Homo sapiens: one gene and its partner. The protein of the gene in region 2 purifies or fractionates together with the protein of the main gene of each other region. This does not show direct contact. Each region holds a gene or a part of one and is shown on either strand. Other genes may lie near its edges.

What was found.
Region 1: the proteins of CDK12 (region 2) and CCNK purify together in Homo sapiens (affinity purification with mass spectrometry; 6 studies listed by BioGRID and IntAct, with this or other methods). This does not show direct contact.

The regions. Positions count from the first base shown.
Region 1 is NC_000014.9:99,476,199-99,486,446, reverse strand, and holds the start of CCNK (cyclin-K), read right to left. Parts: upstream 5,039-10,248; 5' UTR 4,968-5,038; exon of another isoform or gene 4,833-4,967; intron 1-4,832. UniProt on the Homo sapiens protein: Regulatory subunit of cyclin-dependent kinases that mediates activation of target kinases.
Region 2 is NC_000017.11:39,455,894-39,466,711, reverse strand, and holds the start of CDK12 (cyclin-dependent kinase 12), read right to left. Parts: upstream 5,227-10,818; 5' UTR 4,641-5,226; coding exon 3,595-4,640; intron 1-3,594. UniProt on the Homo sapiens protein: Cyclin-dependent kinase that phosphorylates the C-terminal domain (CTD) of the large subunit of RNA polymerase II (POLR2A), thereby acting as a key regulator of transcription elongation.

The DNA of each region.
Region 1 (10,248 bases), on a different chromosome or scaffold from region 2:
GGATGGAGGGATGGAGAGTGAAGAAGGAAGGGGTCTGGGTACAGAACTCTGTGAACTTGTACCAAGTAGGAAGAATCACCAAAGGCGAGCGTTTGCCCAGTGACAGGAAGGTAAAACAGACTTGAATGCACTTATGATTTACCCACTTGCAGACTAAGAATCACCAAATTAGAGAAAGGGAAAAAGACTGGTCCAAGAAGTAGGGAAATTTGCATCCTTTGTTGCAAAACAAACCATGGGATGTCAGCTTTAAACCAGAGATGGTAGTCAACAGTGACAAATGCTAAAGAAAAGTTAAAGGACAAGGAACTAAGGAAAGTTTACTTTAATTGGTGATTAGTTGTTTATTAGAGACACTGAAAATTGTGATGGTTTCATGACTCTGCAAATACTAAAAACGACTGATTTGTACAGTTTAAATGGGTAATTTGTACGGTATAGGATTATATTTCAAGAAAATACATATATACACATATAAATAAAATAACATTTTTAGAAGTGCAATAGGGCAGAAGGTGTAGAAACTGCAAGGGGTGGTAAAGAATGAACAGACTAGGAAATAGGTTATTCTTTTTTATTCATTTTTTAATTTTTTGAGACAGAGTCTCCCTCTGTCATCCAGGCTGGAATGCAGTGGTGCTCACTGCAACCTCCCGCCTCCAGGGTTCAAGTGATTCTCCTGCCTCAGCCTCCTGAGTAGCTGGGATTACAGGCATAAGCCACCGTGCCTGGCTGGAAATAGGTTATTCTTTTGAGGCATCTGTTCTCAAAGAGAGTAACAGGGAATAGTAGGGAGTAGGTTTTGTTATTGTTTTGGTTTTTATATATTTTTCAGCATAAAGGAGAATGAAAAATGTCTGCAGCCAGTAAAAACAAAAAGGAATCACTAGAGGAGTCAGAACAAGGGAGGCTAACTGGTCAAGGGATAATAAAAAGCACAGCAAGAAAGTTAACCTTAGAAAGAAAGCTCTTTCTTCCCCTGAGAATGGAAGGAAAAGTTTGAGAAAGATATTTTTAAATAATCTTTTAAGGGGGAGGAAGTAACTAAAAAATCTCAAGAGTACCTCCATATTCTCTAGGAAGTATAATGCCAAGATATCTGTTGAGGGGAAAGGGGCAGAACGGGGAACAGTGTTAGGAATACCCCAGTAGGGATGAAACTGGAATGGAAAAGAACCTCGGTCCACAAGCGGATAAATCGTAAGTATATTCAATTGTTTTACCTTCTGTAACTGGCCAAACTCCTGGTCCCTTTAGGTTCCAAGGCAGAATATAAACAATTCATGAAATGTAGTGAAAATATTATGGACATAAACAGAATAGAGACAGTCCTCAAAATCGTAGAACTCCCTGAAAAAGTTTTTGCCTCAGGTCTATAAACCTGTTCCCTATTACTCTTCAATTATTTTTTCACAAGACCCTAAAGTTGTAAGTTTTCTCATTAGTAGCTTGTGATTCCTCTGAAAATGACTGAGATTTATGAACTCTGCAAAATGAAAATCCATAAACAAGCAACCTGTCAAGGCATTTTAGCAGCACCTTTCAGGAATGTGCTTCATAAATATCATTTTACATCATAAAAGACTAAATATATTTTCAACATTTAGAATTATGGAAACAATAGTAAATGTCACCACTCAATTATCTCACCCAATATCGAAATCCCCTCTTAGTAATATTTGGCCACTTATCAATGAAACCTCATTAGTTTACAAAACAGCCTATGGCATTGCTGGGTATCAATAACTGGTGTTCACATAATTCCTGTATTCCTATATTGATTTTTATCTGTCCTGTTCATCCCCTAGATCTGCTACACAGATGGCATAAAATAATGCATGAATGAAATCTACCTTTTAGCGACTCTTTAACTTCTACCAGGGTCCTTAAACTAAGCCTTGAAAATACATTTCCCTTATCTATTGATTGTCTTTCAAACAGGTAAAAGCAATTTTTACATTCTCTTCTCTAGGGTAAACAAATCTAACCATTTTTCTCATCATGATTTTTCTTTTTTTTTAGTGTTTCAAGTCCTCCCTAAATATTAGGAATCAAAACAGATATGATGTGCATAGCACATGGGAGGGGGGTGGTAACTAACATGCAGTAACATGTCCATTGTGTGTCTGCTGCGTTGCAGCATGTCTGCAAGCTAGTTTTCTTATCCTCACAATTTATCACTGAGAAAATGGAGCCAGAGACACGAAACAACCTGACTAATTCACAGCTAGCAAGCAGCATCACAACTAGTCTTACTTTATACCAAGATACTGCCTTCCCTCAATCTAGACACTGCTTTTCTTCTGTTTAAGTGGAATGTTACATCCTAGAACCACTTTTGTCAAGCCAGGAAAACTCAGGTTTTGTAAATGTAATCACACCAAGTAAATTTATTTATTTTTTATTTTTTTTGAGACAATCTCACCTAGTAAATTTATATCTGGCCAGTTCTGGCCTATTATTATATTTCAGCCTTTAAGAAATCTTTGATTTCTGAGTGTCATCTAATTTGCTCATTATCACTACATGGTTTGAGTGCATTTATTAACTTGAGAATCACGCTGCTTATCTATTTAAAGTTGGTATTAAGAAAGTGTTAATCCGAGTAAGGGCAAGACCAGAGTCCTGTAGCATATCTCCAAAGACATCTCCCCAGGCTTACATCAACTCATTAATCAACATTTCGGGTTTGGTAATTTGCATGGATATAAATCCATCTAACCACACCTTATCCAATGCACATTTAACTCTTGTGTCTACACACAGTATTAGAATCTTGTTGGAAGACTATGTCCTAAATAAACTTAAATGAACTTATGTCCAACAATCCCCAATCACCACCAGTCTAGTAAACTGTAACAAAAGGAAATATGATTTGTGTCACCTGGCTTTTTCTTGAGACAGGGTCTTGCTTTGTCGCCCAGGCTGGAGCGCAGTCACCCGATCACGGCTCACTGCAGCCTTGATCTCTCAGACTCAAGTGATCCTCCTGCCTCAGTCTCCCAAGTAGCTACTACAGGCATGCACCTCCACATCTGGCTAATTTTTTGATTTTTTTTTTGTAGTGGTGAGGTCTCACTATGTTGCCCAGGATGGTCTTGAACTCCTGAGCTTGTGTGATCCTCCAGCTTTGGCCTCCCACAGTACTGGTATTATAAGCGTGAGCCACCACCTCTGGCCTCACCTGGCCTTTTCTCACTGAAGCTCTGCTGGCTTCAGGGAATCAGCTCTCCTTTCCCAAGTACTCATAAACTTGTTGGCTCTTCCAACAAGATTCTAAAACAGATTATTAATAGGTTCCTAGTAGCCAAGAGCCATCGAATGGTTCTATGTGAAAACAGACATTTACCAGATTCTAGTCTTCTATCATTAACTGTACTTTTAGGATTTTTCAAAATCTAAGAATAACGATTTTATAAAGTCATCTGCAAATACTCTGGTATACAATTTACCTGAGCTTAAAAATATGATCACTCTGTAATCTCCTCAATTACCTTGAATTTAATTCCTCTAGATTTTTTTGTCCTTATCCAATTTTAAAGAAAACAAGCAGAAAACACTGTCCTCCCTTTCAGACACTCAGCAGAGTCACTGCTTTCAAATATAATGTCCTGAAATGAACTAGCCCATTTTATAGGCCACAGCTATGACCAATTTTTCTTTATGACATTCAATTTTAGAAACAGCATTTAAAATTTAAGAACCTCATTAACAACTCGAATAGTTTTTATTGCTTGTTAGTGCAAACTACATTTTCAAAATGGAACAAATTTAAACAGGATTTGCCCAGAAATCAACTAATATGCTTGAATAATGCATCACAATATAATCGAAATGAGATAAAAGAGGGAAAAAAACCCTAAAAGACACCAGCGGTGGTCACTCTGAATAAGACAATCTTGGATAATTATTATATTCATAGTCAAGATTATTTAACAGGTAAGCATCCTAAGGGCACTTTAATCCAAATGTCTATCAATACTACTACCACTACCATCATCCATCCATTCTTTCATTCAGCAATACAGAGGGCTTATTAAACGTCAGGCAGTGTTCTAGGCGCTGAAAGCTCCTCGCTTTCATTCTAGCAACATCATTCATACAAACCTTTAGCGGGCACCTACAACTGCAAGGCATTGTGCTAGGTATCTGTAAACAGCGATTTAGATCGAGATACACAAACATCACCAAGTTTCTCTTAAAAACACAGAAGACCACCCTTAAGAAATGCTCTTAGAAATAGTTCCTAACCTCAGATGACTTAGCGAAAGCTCCGTTTAACTGGCAGTCTAAATTTAGGGAGCATTACCGAGCCTATCTTGGGCAGACAATCGTTTAGGAGCTGTCACATAACCTCTAGACTTACGCTCCAATTTTCTAAAGAACAATTTCTCTCATAACAAACCAAATCAACCACCAGGAGCGGGTCCGTAAAGACGATGTCTGGGCAAGAACGAAATCTAATCCCGGAAGTGCCTTTTCCTCATCTTAGCCGCACCCTCGTTACGTGGCTCTCCAAAACTCCAAAGTCGGAGTACCCTAGACATGGAACAACCTCCAAAAAGTTTCAGGCCTAGCCAAGGTTGGGACTAATACGCCGCGAAATAATCGGGGAGATATGAGAAGTCTGTGGCTGTGAGACTGTGCGCGGTTAACACCGCTGCCCCTTTTGCCCAACCCCTAGAAAGTTCCCCAACTCTGACTGCCCCCCAGTGCGAGGGCCGCTACCAGTTCTAGGGTGAGTCCGGCCTCCCTGCCCCGCCCCGGCGCCTCAGACCCTCTCTACACGCCCGCCCCACAACCCCGCGTCGCCCGCAAAGTTCAATGTGTACCGGAGGTTAGCGGAGGGAGGCAGAATCCGGAAAGAGAGACTCCGCCAGTGGATAGCGGCGGTTGGCCATAACCTACTCCGACCTCCAGATACGCGGGAGGTGGGCGGCGCTGCCCTCAGTCGGTGGGTCACTCACCCCTCGCTTCAGGCAAGCCCCTCAGCGACGTCTCTCCTTGCCGACTGCGGCCATCTTGTATATGGAATGTCGGGGACCTACGTCATCACGCTGCGTCCTGAGACGCCACCAAGCGACCGGAGGGGCGGAGAGAGTAGGATGCCTGTCAACCAATGGGAAGAAAGCAGAGCTCTCAAAAGAGGAACGAGCCGCCGCTCTCCTCCCCGCCCGCCCCGCGGGTCAGTGGCTGCTGCTTACAGAGGGAGGAGCCAGCCACAGGGCCCATCCCGTCGGTCCCGCCCCTCGGGGCGAAAAGGCATTCTGGAGCAACCGAACCTGCTAACGGAACTTGGGCGCGTAGGCGGGGCCCGGGTCGAGATTCGTCCAATCAAAGCTCTGGCGGGGGCGAACGCAGCCAGTTGCGACATCGTGGTTGGCGGCGGCTGAGCCGGCCGCTCTTGCCCCCGGGAGCTGCCAGCCCACTGGCTGGGGAGGACCCCGAACGGAACGCCGGCTGGGTGGCGGGGCGGGGCCGCGCCCATGCGTCCGAAGCGTGGGCCAATGAACGGCGGCGGCTGCGGCCCGGGGGCGGGGTCCGGGGCGGGAGGAGAAGCGTTGGGCCGCGGTCGCGGGGCCGTCTCAGGCTGCCGTCCCGCCCCTCCCGTCCGGCCGCCGCCGCCGCCACCGCCGCCACCGCCTGGGGGTTGGTTGAGGCGGACGGCGGGGTCCGGGCCGGAGTACGTCGTTCCCGCTGCGCTAGGGGAAGCGGGCAGGTGAGTGCTGGCGGCGGTCTCTGCGCCCGCGCGGCCCGCGGGGGAAACTCGCGCCGCGTCTCCGAGCTCTGCGAGGCCGTCCCTCGCCCTGGCCAGCGCCCCTCGGCCGAAGTCCGGCCCGCGCCCCCGCCAGGGTCCCCGCCGGCCGCTGTGGCCCCGGGGCTTGAAGGGGCAGGTGTGCGCTCGGGGGCCAGGGCGAGGAGGGCCCGGCGGGGTCGGAGGGCGCCGGTCGGCCTCTGCCCGGGCGCCCTGCGGGGCGAGAGGCGCGCGCTCGCCGCTGCCCTGTCCCCTCTGGCGCCCACGCTCCCGGGCCCCGCGCCACCCGGTCTCGAGGTGGTGCCAGGTGCAGGCAGCGCTCTCCCCGAGCTTGCCCCGCTGTCCCCGGCCCTCGCGCCTGCTCTCGGGTGGGGCCCGGGCCCCTCGCGCTAGTCGGCTCGGCTCTGCGCGCGGCCGGGTCGCGCTCCCATTTCCTTCCTTCCTCCCGTCACCCCGCTGCTCGGGGAAGGCTGTGCGGTTTTATGTTCCTCTCTGCGAGTTCTCGGTGCCCACCAGGGTGCCCGGGGACCAGCCCCCGCCTCCTCCCGCGCCGTCCAGTTAGGAAGACGGACGTAGGAAATAGGTCGTCTTTCTTCCCACGCGCCCCTGGCCGTGCTCCACACGCGCAGTGCCCTACTAGGGAGAGGCAATTCGGTGCTTTAGAGTTTGTCATTCCGGCGTTAACTCTTCCTCCTCGTGGCTCCAGCCCGGCGATGCAACTCTTGTCTTTTCCCGGTCTCCACTTGGGAAAAGGAGCTGACAGTGACGCGCGCCCCTGGCTGCGGGGCTCACCCCTGCCCGGCCGGTGTTGGGAGGAGGGCATTTCAGTGTTGCAAAGGCATTCGCGGGTTAGGACCACTCGGACCGTGTTATTTTGCTTTTCTAAATAAATAAGGTGATGTTTCAAAAGCAAAAATACTTTTAAAGTATGCTGACAAATCAATTTTGCTTTTAAGAATCCTCGAAGAGTTACCCCATCTTCGTAGCCTGATTGTGGTGCTGATGAGGCCACTATAAATGCGTTTGTCAGAACTCAGAACCGGACACTGAAAAGTGTGAATTTTATCTTATGTAAAATATACCTCTCCCTCTCCCGTTTTTCTTCTTGAAATGACCTTGCCAGTATTTCAAAACTGAACTAACCAGTAATAATCTCGGAGAAGTGTTTATTATTTTAAGCGAATACATTTAACCCAAGAATATAGCAAAATAAAGCAGTCTTCCTCTCCACTGTTAAAATTTGCCAAGACTTGCTTGAACCTTGCTGTATGTACTGTGTTTATACGGGCTACCATGCGTGAAAGTCCAGCAGTACTGGATTAGTCCCAAGGGCTGCCGTGATTGATACTTTGGTGAAATTCCAACAGTTTACCGAGGAGTTTTTCTTCGGCCTAAGAAAGTAGTTTGCAAAGCCAAGTTCTCAAACAGCTACAGAACCTCTTTATTGGGACCCCAGACAACCTTGGATTTTAGCCTTCTGCTACCCCTTTCCTGTCTGCCCTCCAAGTGATTGTAAGTTAATATCTGAAATGGAACTGTAGTCTGAAGGAGTAAAATGGTTGCTTCTCCAGTGTGCTAACATCTCAGTGCTTTTTTTTCCTGGAATTGGAGTGGTGTTGGATTTGAAGATTAGAACATCTTATGTCTGTATGTACGGTTATAGCGAAAGCTTCTCGTAAGAGCACAGTGACTGTCAGTAAGAAAGTGATGGCTGCTGCGCTGCTCTTCCGTGCCGTGGACATTTAGGCCACATTTTAAATGATAATTAAGCTTTTGCTTTAGAAGCCACTGGATAATGAGAAAAATATGGAGGTGATATTTTTCCTATTTAAAGCTTAACCACTGGACAACTGTTTTGGTTTTGAGAGTTCTGATAAACGGTCACAACAGCCTCCTTGGAACACAGTACTCTCCTGCCTGGAGGAGAATGACAGGATGACGGCGCCGGGGAAGGTATGACCATCAGCGACGGAGGCTTGCTTGGAGTGAATATTTAGTAGACAATCATTGAATTCAATGAAAACCAGGTGCATAGTTTGTGCTGTGTAGAGTTGTAGTAAAAATATGAGCAAAAATCCTACCTCCAAGTCAGGGTTACTCTGAATGCTTTGTGACTAGATGTCAGTGTAGTTTGAGGCGTACCAGTTTTCTTCAATGTTTTAATTACATAGAGTCTTTTTTCTTATCACAAATCCGAAGTAGGGTTTAGAACTGTAACTAGTAATACTGTATCTTTCTTTTGTGTAGTTGGATGAATATCCTTCTCTGAGAGGTTATTTATCTTTAGAGACTGGTTTGCCTGTTCCCTGGCTGCTGTGCCTTGTGCTTCTGTTGAGGGTGGAGAGGAAGAGTTTCAAGTGTGTTTCTTTCCCTTGGACCGAAGTCCTGGGAATGGAGTGGTGACTTTGTTCCCTCAAAGAGAACTCGGAGTCATTTATTGCTATGGCATTAAATGTTTTTAACAGAACGGTGAACTTATCTTTATTCTTATGTTACTTTGGATGTTGCTTGTGGCCAGTTATAATATTTGCTTTCTCAATTACCTACCCTTATTTTTGGGCCCTTTTTTTATCAGTGAAAAATCTTTTGATTAGCCGTGCATCTTTTCTCTCCTGCTATAGTCATAGAAGTGTTTATCTGGCTAACAGTTTGTTTTGGGTCATATTTAACCAGTCGAGAGTATTAGAATAAAGAGTCTTGCTTTTTCAGTTTTCTATAGTTTTCACTTCTGTTGCCTTTACAATGGTTTTCTGTCATTGGATTTCCTTTTATCATCTCATTTTTCTATTCATAAATTGGAGAGGTTAACTAATTTGATATGCAAATAGAATTAATTTACATAATATTTACTCTCAAGGTAAAAAATTTCTATCAAAATATTAATATATATTAATATATTTTCCTATTACAAAGAAGTTGAGACTTGGCTTTTTTTTTTTTTTTGAGATGGAGTTTCGCTCTTGTTGCCGAGGCTGGAGTGCAATGTCGTGATCTCGGCTCACCGCAACCTCTGCTTCCTGGGTTCATTCTCTTGCCTCAGCCTCTGAGCAGCTGGGATTACAGGCATGCGCCACCACGCCTGGCTAATTTTGTATTTTTAATAGAGAAAGGGTTTCTCCATGTTGGTCAGGCTGGTCTGGAACTCCCGACCTGAGATGATCCGCCCACCTCAGCCTCCCAAAGTGCTGGGATTACAGGCGTGAGCCACCGCACTGGGCTGAGACTTGGCTTTTTAAAAAGTTACTTAATAGTCTTTTGAAAAAAAAATTAGCATCTGCAAGATTAAGAAGTCTTGCTTTTTAACTCAAGCCAGAGATTAGCTGTGTTGACCCCGTTTCCACTTGGGAGTCTCCTCTAAGTTTTGGATATAAACAGACTGTAAAAACGAGATAAAAACACAGATATTGAACAGTTTCGACTGAGATAAATTTGAATGGAAGAAAACTGATTCCAAATGATTATAAAATTCAAATACCAAAGTTAAGACTTTGCAATTTTTTTTTTCTTCTATCAAGTACTTTCCAAGTAGAAGTGAACTAGTGAGTCCAAACAGTCTTGGTTGACAATGAAAGACACATCTATCTTTGAAGTTAAGATTTTGAAAGGGATCTACTGATTACTAAGCCAAAGTGAATCATTAGCCTTTTGCAAGCCTAACCTCAGTACTGGGATGGGGAAGTAGGGGAGGGCAGAGGGACAGAGCAGGAAGAAATGTTTCCACTGTTTTTTAGAAGGACAAAAAAAATTGTCTAGAGAATGTAGATAATCAAGTGTCTACACGGAACTTTTTATTTTTAGTTTTTAATTGACAAAAATATATGATACATAGAACTCTTAATAAAATATACACTTAGGTTTATTACTGTCTATGATCCTGAGTTTCACGTTCCATTTTTTAAGAATACAATTCATCAGGACATAACAGGTCTAAGAAAGTCTTCCGACTAAATGGTTTACAATGTTCAGTCTCAGAAAATAGACATGCCTTTTCAATATCAGCAGTTTTCTATTACACATATTTGAGAGGAAGTAAAGATTAGTGTTGACAAATACTTATAAAAGCTGCTTTTACCATAAAATATTTACTAGTGTCTAATAACATTTTTGATTTGTTGTTTGTAAAAATTTAGCTTCGCTGCATGTCATGGTCACCTCATGGTTCTGCGTTTTTCCCTGCAACAAAAATGTGGCATTGCAGATATGGTGGACTGGATGGAAGCTCTTTTGGAAGTTTTGCCCATGTCCCAAATTTAACCTGCAGCTCCTCCTATGTATTTGGACAAAGCCAGCAAAATAACTATACTTTTAAAAGGCCAAAAAATAAAACCTTTACATGCGTATGTTTTATCAGTGCAAGGGAATAGTATTTTGAATATTAGCGATAACAGTGAACCTTTGGAGCTCTCATAAATGGGTTGGTTTTGAGCCGAACTCATGAAATATTATTATCAGTAAGATTTGTCATTGAGGTGTGCTGGTGAGGCTCTGACACA
Region 2 (10,818 bases):
TTCTAAACTTATTTTTACCATTACTGACTAAATTATGTGAGTAGAGATTCATCTGCTTTTTTTTTTTTTTTTTTTTTTTTTTTTTTTTTTTTTTTTCAGATAGAGTTTCACTCTTGTTGCCCAGGATGGAGTGCAATTATTGCAATCGCGGCTCACCTCAACCTCCTCCTCCTGGGTTCAAGCAATTCTCCTGCCTCAGCCTCCCAAGTAGCTGGGATTACAGGCATGTGACACCACGCCCAGCTAATTTTGTATTTTTAGTAGAGAAAGGGTTTCTCCATGTTGGTCAGGCTGGTCTCGAACTCCCGACCTCAGGTGATCCGCCTGCCTCAGCCTCCCAAAGTGCTAGGATTACAGGCGTGATCCACTGCGCCTGGCCTTTTTCTTTCTTTTTTTTTTTTTTTGAGACGCAGTCTCATTCTGTCGCCCAGGCTGGAGTGCAGTGGCGTGACTTTGGCTCACTATAACCTCTGCCTCCCAGGTTCAAGCGATTCTCCTGCCTCAGCCTCCCGAGTAGCTGGGATTATAGGTGCATGCCACCACGCCTGGCTAATTTTTGTATTTTTAGTAGGGACGGGGTTTCACCACGCTGGCCAGGCTGGTCTCAAACTCCTGACCTCAGGAGATCTGCCCGCCTTGGCCTCCCAAAGTGCTTGGGATTATAGGCATAAGCCACCACGCCCAGCCTCCTCTACTCTCTTAAGAGAACATGAGATATGCTGTTTTACCTAAGAATCCAAAAGGAATCACTAGAAAGAAGCACTTCTTACTGAAACTCCTTTTAGTGTTTTAGTCTTAGCACACTCTTCTCTATTCCCATACCCTAAAGTTAACAATTTTTACAGCCTTAATGAACTACTCTATCAAGAAACAAATATCCTAAGAATACTTTTTAGACTTCCTTAAAACACTAAGCAGCATGGCTGTGCGCATTGGCTCACGCCTGTAATCCCAGCACTTTAGGAGGCCGAGGCTGGCGGATCACCTGAGGTCAGGAGTTGGAGACCAACCTGGCCAACATGGTAAAGCCCTGTCTCTACTAAAAAAACACAAAAATTAGCCAGATGTGATGGTGGGCGCTTGTAATTCCAGCTACTCTCAGGAGGCTGAGGCAGGAGAATAGCTTGAACCCGAGAGGCAGAGGTTGCAGTGAACCGAGATCGCTCCACTGCACTCCAGCCTGGGCAACAAAACAAGACTCTGTCTCAAAAAAAAACAAAAAACAAAGCAGCTTTACAAATGCTACACTTAAGACTTAGGCATTTTACTGTATATAAATTTTACTCCTCACCCCTCCAAAAAAAAAAAAAGGGTAATCCAGCTAATGGTAAACATGTTAAAGTGTTTAGAATGAAGTATACTGATGTCTACAACTTACTTTGAAATAAATGAAAATAAAAGATAGATTAATGGACAGGTAGATAGATTACAAAATACATGGCTTTTTTTTTTTTTTTTTTAAGACTGAGTCTTACTCTGTCTCTGTCACCTAGGCTGGAGTGCAATGGCACGATCTCAGCTCACTGCAACCTCTGCCTCCCGGGCTCAACTGATTCTCCTGCCTCAGCCTTCCGAGTAGCTGGGACTACAGGCGCACGCCACCACACCCAACTAATTTTTTATATTTTTATAGAGACAGCATTTCACCACATTGGCCACGCTGGTCTCAAACTCCCTACCTCGTGATCCGCCCACCTCGGCCTCCCAAAGTGCTGAGATTACAGGTGTGAGCCACTCCTGGCCCAATTTTTTTTTTTTTTGAGACAGGGTCTCACTCTGTTGCTCAGGCTGGAGTGCAGTGGTGTGATCACAGCTCACTGCAGCCTTGACTTCCTAGGCTCAAGCAATCCTCCCACCTCAGCCTCCCAGGCAGTGGGGACTACAGATGTGCACCACCGCGACCAGCTAATTTTTTTTTTTTTCCTGTAGAGAACGGGGCCTCACTATGTTGCCCAGCCTGGATACAGCAAATATTTATTGTAGAATCTTGCTGTTACATATATGGGTGTTCACTACAACCTTTCTGTGCTGGAAAATTTTTTATAATAAAATGGAGGAGGAAACATTAAGAACTCCAGCCCTTGACAGCTAGGAACACTCTGCAGCTTGATGTACTCACACCATTTATGAATTGTAACTTTAAGTCAGCAAAAATTACACTGAAATACAAAAGCCATGCATGAGCCAGGCGTGGTGGCTCATGCCTGTAATCCCAGCACTTTGGGAGGCAGGAGGATTGCTTGAGCTCAGGAGTTCAAGACCATCCTGGGCAACAGGGCAAAACCCAGTCTCTACAAAAAAAAAAAAGAAAAAGAAAAAAAAAATTAGCCAGGCATGGTGGCATGAACCTGTAATCCCAGCTACTCAGGAGGCTGAGGTGGACGGATTGCTTGAGCCTGGGAAGTCAAGGCTGCAGTGAGCCAAGATGATGCCACTGCACTCCAGCCTAGGCAACAGGGCAAGATCTTGTCTTTCAAAAAAAAAAAAAGTCATGCATGAATTTTTTTCAAATTAGCACAATTTCTCTACCAGTGTTCAACATCCTCACTCATAATTTACTGAGTGATATTATGTACAAGGCACTGTGCTATGCACTTCAAATTGACTAATTTAATCATCACAACCCTTAAAAGTAGGTATTTATTATTCCCATTTTACACCTGAAGCAACTCAGGCAAGGAGAAATTAACTCATTTGCTAAAGGTCACAAAGCAACATTAGGATTCCACAAAGGTCTAACTAAAGCCCACATTCTGTTTTTGTGAACAGAAGTGAGGCCACAAAGGAGATACATCTCATTACCTAGGAACAAGAACACAGTTTTCCAAATAATTCACTCTAACAACAAAATTTCAAACTAGCATGCCTTTCTCGCAAAAATATAAAGAAGGCATTATTACTATGTGTTTTAGAGAAAGATTTTGAAAATTGTCAGCGGTCACAAGGTAGGTCAGTGATGATGCTGTAAAGAAAACCAAATTGTCCTTGGAACCAATTTCTGCTAGGTTATACCATTAAAAGGGTAACAGACTAATCAGCTGAATTTCCACTAAAACATCAGTTAAAAGACAGGAATCTTTTGTAAATAATTAAAACAGTGCCAAGTAGGAAATGAATAAATGTACAGGTTTGGGGATTCAGTGGACAACACAAATAGGATAAACTAGGCAAGTAACTTCCATACCAATTTCTTAAGTCTTCAACCAGGTCCCATAGAGTCTAAAGCACAAATACCAATGTGATTTTTAAAAATATAAAACTAAGCAACAGAAATAGCTAGACATGCTCTGGGAACTAGTATCAACTCCATCCACTCACTAAGCAGAAGCCTTTGACGTTTCTCACTCAGAAGCTTACAACTGAAGACCCCACCACTGGAAGTACCTACCTTTGGCGGTTTGAGGCCTATGTACTCTTCACTTCTCGAATTCTGGGTTAAGGGGAGACAGATTCACACACTGGAATGACTAGCCAACAGCAAAGTGTTCTAGTCAATGATGAACACTGCGGGCTTCCAGACAATGTTAACACGCTGAATGCCAATTCCTCGCAACCCACCCTAAATGAGGAAGGACTGTTAGACAAATAGCTCACCTGGGGAGTGGACTCCGACTCAGAGACCGCTTGCTCAGGAAAGGGCTGCTGGACCGCCTTCGACCATAGGGACTGGGCGATCGCCCGCTGTAAGAGCCACTTCTTTCGTAGCTGGACGACCGTCTCCTGCTATAGGGACTGACAGATCTCTGTCGCCTACTGTAGGGGCTCGGTGACCGGGTGCTGGACTGGTAGGCCGAAGGCTCCTTGTAAGGGGGACTGACCGACTGCCTTCTCGAGGTACTTCCAGGACTTTTCTTGTAGGAGTCATAATTGCTCGAGGTATGAGATCGTGAGGGACTAAGGTCATAATCTTGGCCATAAGAAGCTCCCGAGGGGCTATCATCTTGTTTGGAGCTGTCAGACCACTTCCTGTGGGGGCTCCTGGATCTCCGTTTTGGGCTGTCCACTGTTTTGTAACTTTTGGGTGTTTCCCTTTTTCGATGACTTTTACTCCGGTCTTTGTGCCCAGACTTCAGCTCCCGTTCTTTCCTGGTCTTCTCCTTGTGGAGCTTGGATGACCTGGATTCCTTGCTGCTGCTTTTGGCTACCTGCGCCTTCCCATAGTCATCAGTCTCCTCATTCGAACGCTTTGAACTTCCCGATATCCGGTCCTTCATCGATCCCGACTTGCTGGAGACTTCTTGGCTTTTTTCTTTTTCGGTCTGTTTAGCTTTTAGTAAGTCCCGGGAACGCCTGTGCTGGTGGTGACGATGTTTGTGCAGGCGGTCGCTCCGATCTGATCCACGACGTTCGTCGTTCTCCCTTCGGTCTAGTTTGAAGGCCATGTCATCGGAGAAGGTGTCGGAATCAGAGCTGATATCATCATACTCCACCAAAGGTTTGATAACTGTGCCCAGGGATGCTGCTTCGGGGGTCACCAACCCCATGTCTTTGGAGTGTTTGGACTTATGCCGCTTGTGCTTCGATACCAAGCGGTGACGCTCTCTGCTGTTAGAGCTGCCGCCTCCCGATGACGGCTGCAAAGTTCCAGAAGCTCCTCCACTCCCGTCCTTCTTGCCCCCATGTCTCTCTGAATTGGGCATTCCCTTTCCCCTGACCTGAAGAAGGGAAAAAAGTTCCCCAGCACTCCAAAAAGCAACCCCCACCCACCCCCCCAACCCCAACTCCACGCCCACCAAAGCGCCCCGGGAAGGGGGTGGGGAGGGCAGGGACGGTAGCCCAGGCTCCTCCTCCCTCCCGACGCCTCAGCACCCTTCTACATGAGGTGGGGGGTGAAGGAGCGAGGGAAGAAATGAGAGTTCCTCGGCAGTGGAGTTGCGAGACAACGGGGAGCTGCTCAAGTCTGTTTCCTCTTCTCCCTCCGCCGAGCCAGTCCTCAGGCCCGGGCGCCGGGGAGGTCCAGGAAGTGAGAAGCCGACGGCCCGGGGCTGTGGAGCCGACTCCAGCTCTGGGGCCCTGCGAGGACTACGCGGGCCCTTCCCCTACCCGGTAGCCCGGTTCAGGACGGCTTCCTGTCGCCGGGGTGCCGCGGCCTAGGTGCCTCACGCCCCCTTTGTCCCTCGCTCCTGAGGTAGCCCCCTTTCTTGCCTCCGTTTCACCTCCACACCACACACACTCTCTCCCTCACACAGACCCAGTCACACACTAGATTAAACCGAAACGGCACTTGGGGAAGGGGGGAGGGGCAATCCCAGAAATCGTCGCGAGAGTCCAGTAGCCTCTCGCGATGTTTCGTGCTTCGCTTTCACCTCATTCCCCTGCTTATCAAACAACGCGAGATCAGGTCCCAAACTAGAAACGCGTTTCACCTGAGTCTCGCGATGAGCTCCCGGAGCTCCCCGTTTGAGCAAAGCTTTATTGAAACGGAACAAACCGAGTTTTTTTTTTTTAACCAAAACTTTATCGGTAACTGATTAAACAAACACTCCCAGGCTCCGTGACAAAATAATTTCAACATCCTTTTTAACAAATCTTTTAACTACCAGGATGACTTTTTTTTGTTTGTTTTTTGTTTTCCTTTGAGACGGAGTCTCGCTCTGTAGCCCATCCTGGAGTGTTAGTGGCGCGATCTCGGCTCACTGCAACCTCCACCTCCTGGGTTCAAGCGATTCTCCTGCCTCAGCCTCCCGAGTAGCTGGGATTACAGGCGCCCGCCACCACGCCCGGCTAACTTTTTTGTTTTTAGTAGAGACAGGGTTTCACCATGTTGGCCAGGCTGGTCTCGACCTCCTGACCTCAAGTGATCCTCCCGCCTCGGCCTCCCAAAGTGCTAGGATTACAGGCGTGAACCGCCGCGCCGGGCCATTTTTTTGTTTGTTTGAGACAAGTTCTCTCTCTTTTGCCCAGACTGGAGTGCAGTGGCACGATCTCGGCTCACTGCAGCCTCCACCTCCTGGGCTCAAGCAATCCTCCCACCTCATCCTGCCGAGTACTTGGAACTATAGAGTCGCGCCACCACGCCGTGCTAATTTGTTTCTATTATTCGTAGTGATGGGGTTTCGCCATGTTGCCCAGGCTAGTCTCGAACTCCTAGACTCAAGCAATCCGCGATCCTTGGTCTTGAACTCCTAGAATGAAGCAATCTGCCCGTCTGGTCCTCCCAAAGTGGCGGGATTACAGGCTTGAGCCACCGCGCCCGGTTGAGATTATTTTTTACAGAGCAAAAGACAAATGTCGGGACATTTCAACCCAAGTCCCTGAGTGTTTTAACAGTGCTTCCCACATATAGGGTGTGTGCTACCTGCCAAGAATTTTACATACATTATCTCTAATTTTCACAATTATCCTGCAAAACACGAGATTTTCATCCCTGTTTTATAGAAAAGGAATCCCAGCCTCAGGGAAGTTGAATAATTTGGTCCAACAAGTGCCACAGTCAACATTCAAATTCATGTCTTTCTGAGACTAAAACACAAGCTCTTCCATCCTATGGTGTTGTCTCCTTACCAATCTTTGCTTCAAATCTCAGAACCTAAAAGCTCATCCCATCTTGAGATCCTCCCATGGCCGTTATTGGATAATTTAGCCTTTCATCCTCATACAAAAGATTATAATATGAACAAGAAAAGCATAGTATTAATTAACAAGAAAATAACACTATCTTACACTGGCCCCTCATTTATTACTTTTTAAAAAACTTTCGCCTACCTTAAGTCATTCCATCTTCACAACAGTCCTCTGAAATAGGTTGTATAAGTGAGAAAACTAAGGCATGGAGAAATGAAGGGGCTTGTCCAAAACGGAGAAGTTCAGCTGGTAAATTCAGGACCAGAAAACATTCTGAATTAAGGTAGTCTCAATTCTCAAAAATCACTCTCTGTAAATGTTCTTGTTCCTTTTGCTCACAGGGCGATCCAAAACATTTTTTTTTTTTAACCTAATTTTGTGTGTGTGTGTGAAGGGTCTCGCTCTGTCGCCCAGGCTGGAGTGCAGTGGCACAATCATAACTCACTGTAGCCTTCCCCTCATGGGCTCAGGTGATCCTCCCATCTCAGCCTCCTGAGTAGCTGAGACTACAGCCACAGGCCACCAGCCCAGCTAATTTTTATTTTTATTTTTTTGTAGAGATGGAGGGCTGGCTATGTTGCCGAGTCTGACCTCAGATGCCTGGGCTCAAGCATTCCATCCACTTTGGCCCCCAAAGTGTTAGGATTACAGGCGTGAGCCACCACGCCCGCCGTCTCTAAATGATTGAGTCCATAAATATTGGTTCTAAAATAAAAAGATCAGGCCAGGCACAGTGGCTCACTCCTGTAATCCCAGCACTTTGGGAGGCCAAGGTGGGCAGATCACAAGGTCAAGAGATGGAGACGATCCTGGCCAACATGGGGAAACCCCGTCTCTACTAAAAACACAAAAATTAGCTGGGCTTGGTGGCACACACCTGCAGTCCCAGCTACTCGTGAGGCTGAGGCAGAGGTTGAACCCTGGAGGCAGAGGTTGCAGCGAGCCGAGATCGCGCCACTGCACTCCAGCCTGGCAACAGAGCAAGACTCCGTCTCAAAATAAATAAGTAAATAATAAAAAAATTTAAAAAATAAAAAGACCAAGTTTTCCACGACAACTTTTTGATCTTCTATGGAAGTAAAATTAATGCTATCAAGAAAAAAGAAGTGGCTGGGAGCAGTGGCTCATGCCTGTAATCCCAGCACTTTGGGAGGCCAAGAGGGGAGGATCATTTGAGGTCAGGAGTAAGACCAGCCTGGCCAATGCAGTGAAACCCTGTTTCTACTAAAAATACAAAAATAGGCCGGGCGCAGTGGCTCACTCCTGTAACCCCAGCACTTTGGGAGCCGAGGCGGGCAGATCAGGAGGTCAGGAGATCGAGACCATCCTGGCTAACACGGTGAAACCCCGTCTCTACTAAAAATACAAAAAAATTAGCTGGGCGTGGTGGCGGGTGCCTGTAGTCGCAGCTACTCAGGAGGCTGAAGCAGGAGAATGGTGTGAACCCGGGAGGCAGAGATTGCAGTGAGGGGAGATCACGCTACTGGGAGGCAGAGATTGCAGTGAGGGGAGATCACGCTACTGCACTCCAGCCTGGGCAACAGAGCAAGACTCTGCCTCAAAAAAAAAAAAAATTAGAGGCCAAGCACTGTGGCTCATGCCTGTAATCCCAGCACTTTGGGAGGCCGAAGTGGGAGGACCACTTGAGGTCAGCAGTTCAAGACCAGCCTGGCCAACACAGTGAAATCCTATCTCTACTAAAAATACAAAAATTAGTCAGGCGTGGTGGTGATCGCCTGTAATCACAGATATTCAGGAGGTTGAGACAGGAGAATCGCTTGAACCCAGAACGCAGAAGTTGCAGTGAGCCAAGATCGTGCCACTGCGCTCCAGCCTGGGTGACAGAGCAAGACTCTGTTTCAAAAACAAACAAACAAACAACAAAAAAATATATATATATTTATATATACACACACACAAAAATTAGCCAGGCATGGTGGCATATGCCTGTAATTCCAGCTACTCAGGAGGCTGAGGCATGAGAATCACTAGAACCTGGGAGGCAGAGGTTGCAGTGAGCTAAGATTGCACCACTGCATTCCAACCTGGGCAACAGAGTGAGAATCCATCTAAAAAAAAAAAAAAGTGGCTAACAAAAAGAAAAAAGGGCTGAGTGTGGTGGCTGACATCTGTAAAACCAACAATTTGGAAGGCCAACATGGAAGGAATTCGTGAGCCCAGAAATTGGAGACCAGCCTGGGCAACATGTTGAGACATCTGTCTCTACAAAAAAATACAAGAAATGACAGGCCGAGCAAGGTGGCTCATGCCTGTAATCCCAGCAATTTGGGAGGCCGAGGCAGGCAAATTGCCTGAGTTCAGGAGTTTGAGACCAGCCTGGGCAACACGGTAAAACCCCATCTCTACTAAAATACAAAAGAAATTAGCCGCCGGGCTTGGTGGCTCACGCCTGTAATCCCAGCACTTTGGGAGGCTGAGGCGGGCGGATCACCTGAGGTCGGGAGTTCGAGACCAGCCCGACCAACATGGAGAAACCCCGTCTCTATTAAAAATACTAAAAAATTAGCTGGGCATGGTGGCCCATGCTTGTAATCCCAGCTACTCGGGAGGCTGAGGCAGGAGAATCGCTTGAACGCAGGAGGCGGAGGTTGCAGTGAGCCGAGATTGGGCCATCGCACTCCAGCCTGTGCAACAAAAGAGAAACTCTGTCTCAAAAAAAAAAAAAAAAATTAGCCAGGCGTAGTGGTGTGGGCCTGTATTCTCAGCTATTCGGGAGGCTGAGGCAGGAGAATTGCTTGAACCCAGGAGGCAGAGCTTGCAGTGAGCCAAGATCACGCCACTGCACTCCAGCCTGGGCGACAGAGCGAGACTCCGTCCCTACCAAAAACAAACAAACAAAAACAAGAAATTAACCAGGCATGGTGTTGCTTGCCTATAGTCCCAGCTACTATGAGGCTGAGATGGGAGGATCACTTGAGCCCAGGAGGTCAAGGCTGCAATGAGCCATGATCATGCCACTGCACTCCAGCCTGGGTAACAGAACAAGAACCTGCCTCAAAAAAGAAAAGAAAAAAGAAAAACACGGGCCAGGCATGGAGGCTCACGCCTGTAATCCCAGTACTTTGGGAGGCCGAGGCAAGCAGATCACCTGAGGTCAGGAGTTCAAGACCAGCCTGACCAACAAGAAGAAACCCCGTCTCTACTAAAAATACAAAAATTAGCCCAGCGTGGTGGCACATGCCTGTAATCTCAGCTACTAGGGAGGCTGAGGCAGGAGAATTGCTTGAACCCGGGAGGTGGAGGTTGCGGTGAGATGAGATGGTGCCATTGCACTCAGCCTGGGCAACAAGAGTGAAACTGTCTCCAAAAAAAAAAAAAAAAAAGAAAAGAAAAGAAAAACACAAGTACTGGAACTCAGTTGTGAACACTCCTTATTCACCGCTATAGGAGGATAGGACACCCTGGATATATTTTCTTGAGACAAGGTCTTGCTGTGCTGCCCAGGCTGGAGTACAGTGTTGCCAGGACAACCTGGATTTATTTTCTTGAGACAAGGTCTTGCTCTGTTGCCCAGGCTGGAGTACAGTGGTATGACCATGACACACTGCAGTCTTTTTTTTTTTTTTTTTGAGATGAAGTCTCGCTCTTGTCCCCCAGGCTGGAGTGCAATGGCACGATCTCGGCTCAGTGCAAGCTCCACCTCCTGGGTTCAAGTGATTCTCCTGCCTCAGCCTCCTGAGTAGCTGGGATTACAGGCGCCTGCCACCATGCCCGGCTCATTTTTGTATTTTTAGTAGAGATGGGGTTTCGCCATGTGGCTAGGCTGGTCTCGAACTCCTGACCTCAGGTGATCCACCCACCTTGGCCTCCCAAAGGGCTGGGATTACAGGTGTGAACCACTGTGTCCGGCTGACACACTGCCATCTTCACTTCCTGAGCTCAAGCAATCCTCCAGCCTCAGCCTCTCCTGGCTGGGATTACAGGTGTAAGCCACAGAGCCTGGCTAATTTTTTTTTTATTTTTTGTAAAGACGGGGTCTTGCTATGTTGCCCAGGCTGCTCTTGAAGTCCTCGGCTCAAGGGATCCTCCCACCTGGACTCCCAAGATGCTCGGAATACAGGCATGGGCCACTGTGTCTGGCCTTGAATGTTTTACATGATGACAGATGGCATGAGACTTCCTGGGCTGATTAAATGTAGTGACCAGTCAGCCATAGTAAGTGTTGGCATGGGTTTGTTGTCATGAGTTCAATAAAATTCACCCTGATTTTTCTGTCTTTTAAATGAGATCAGG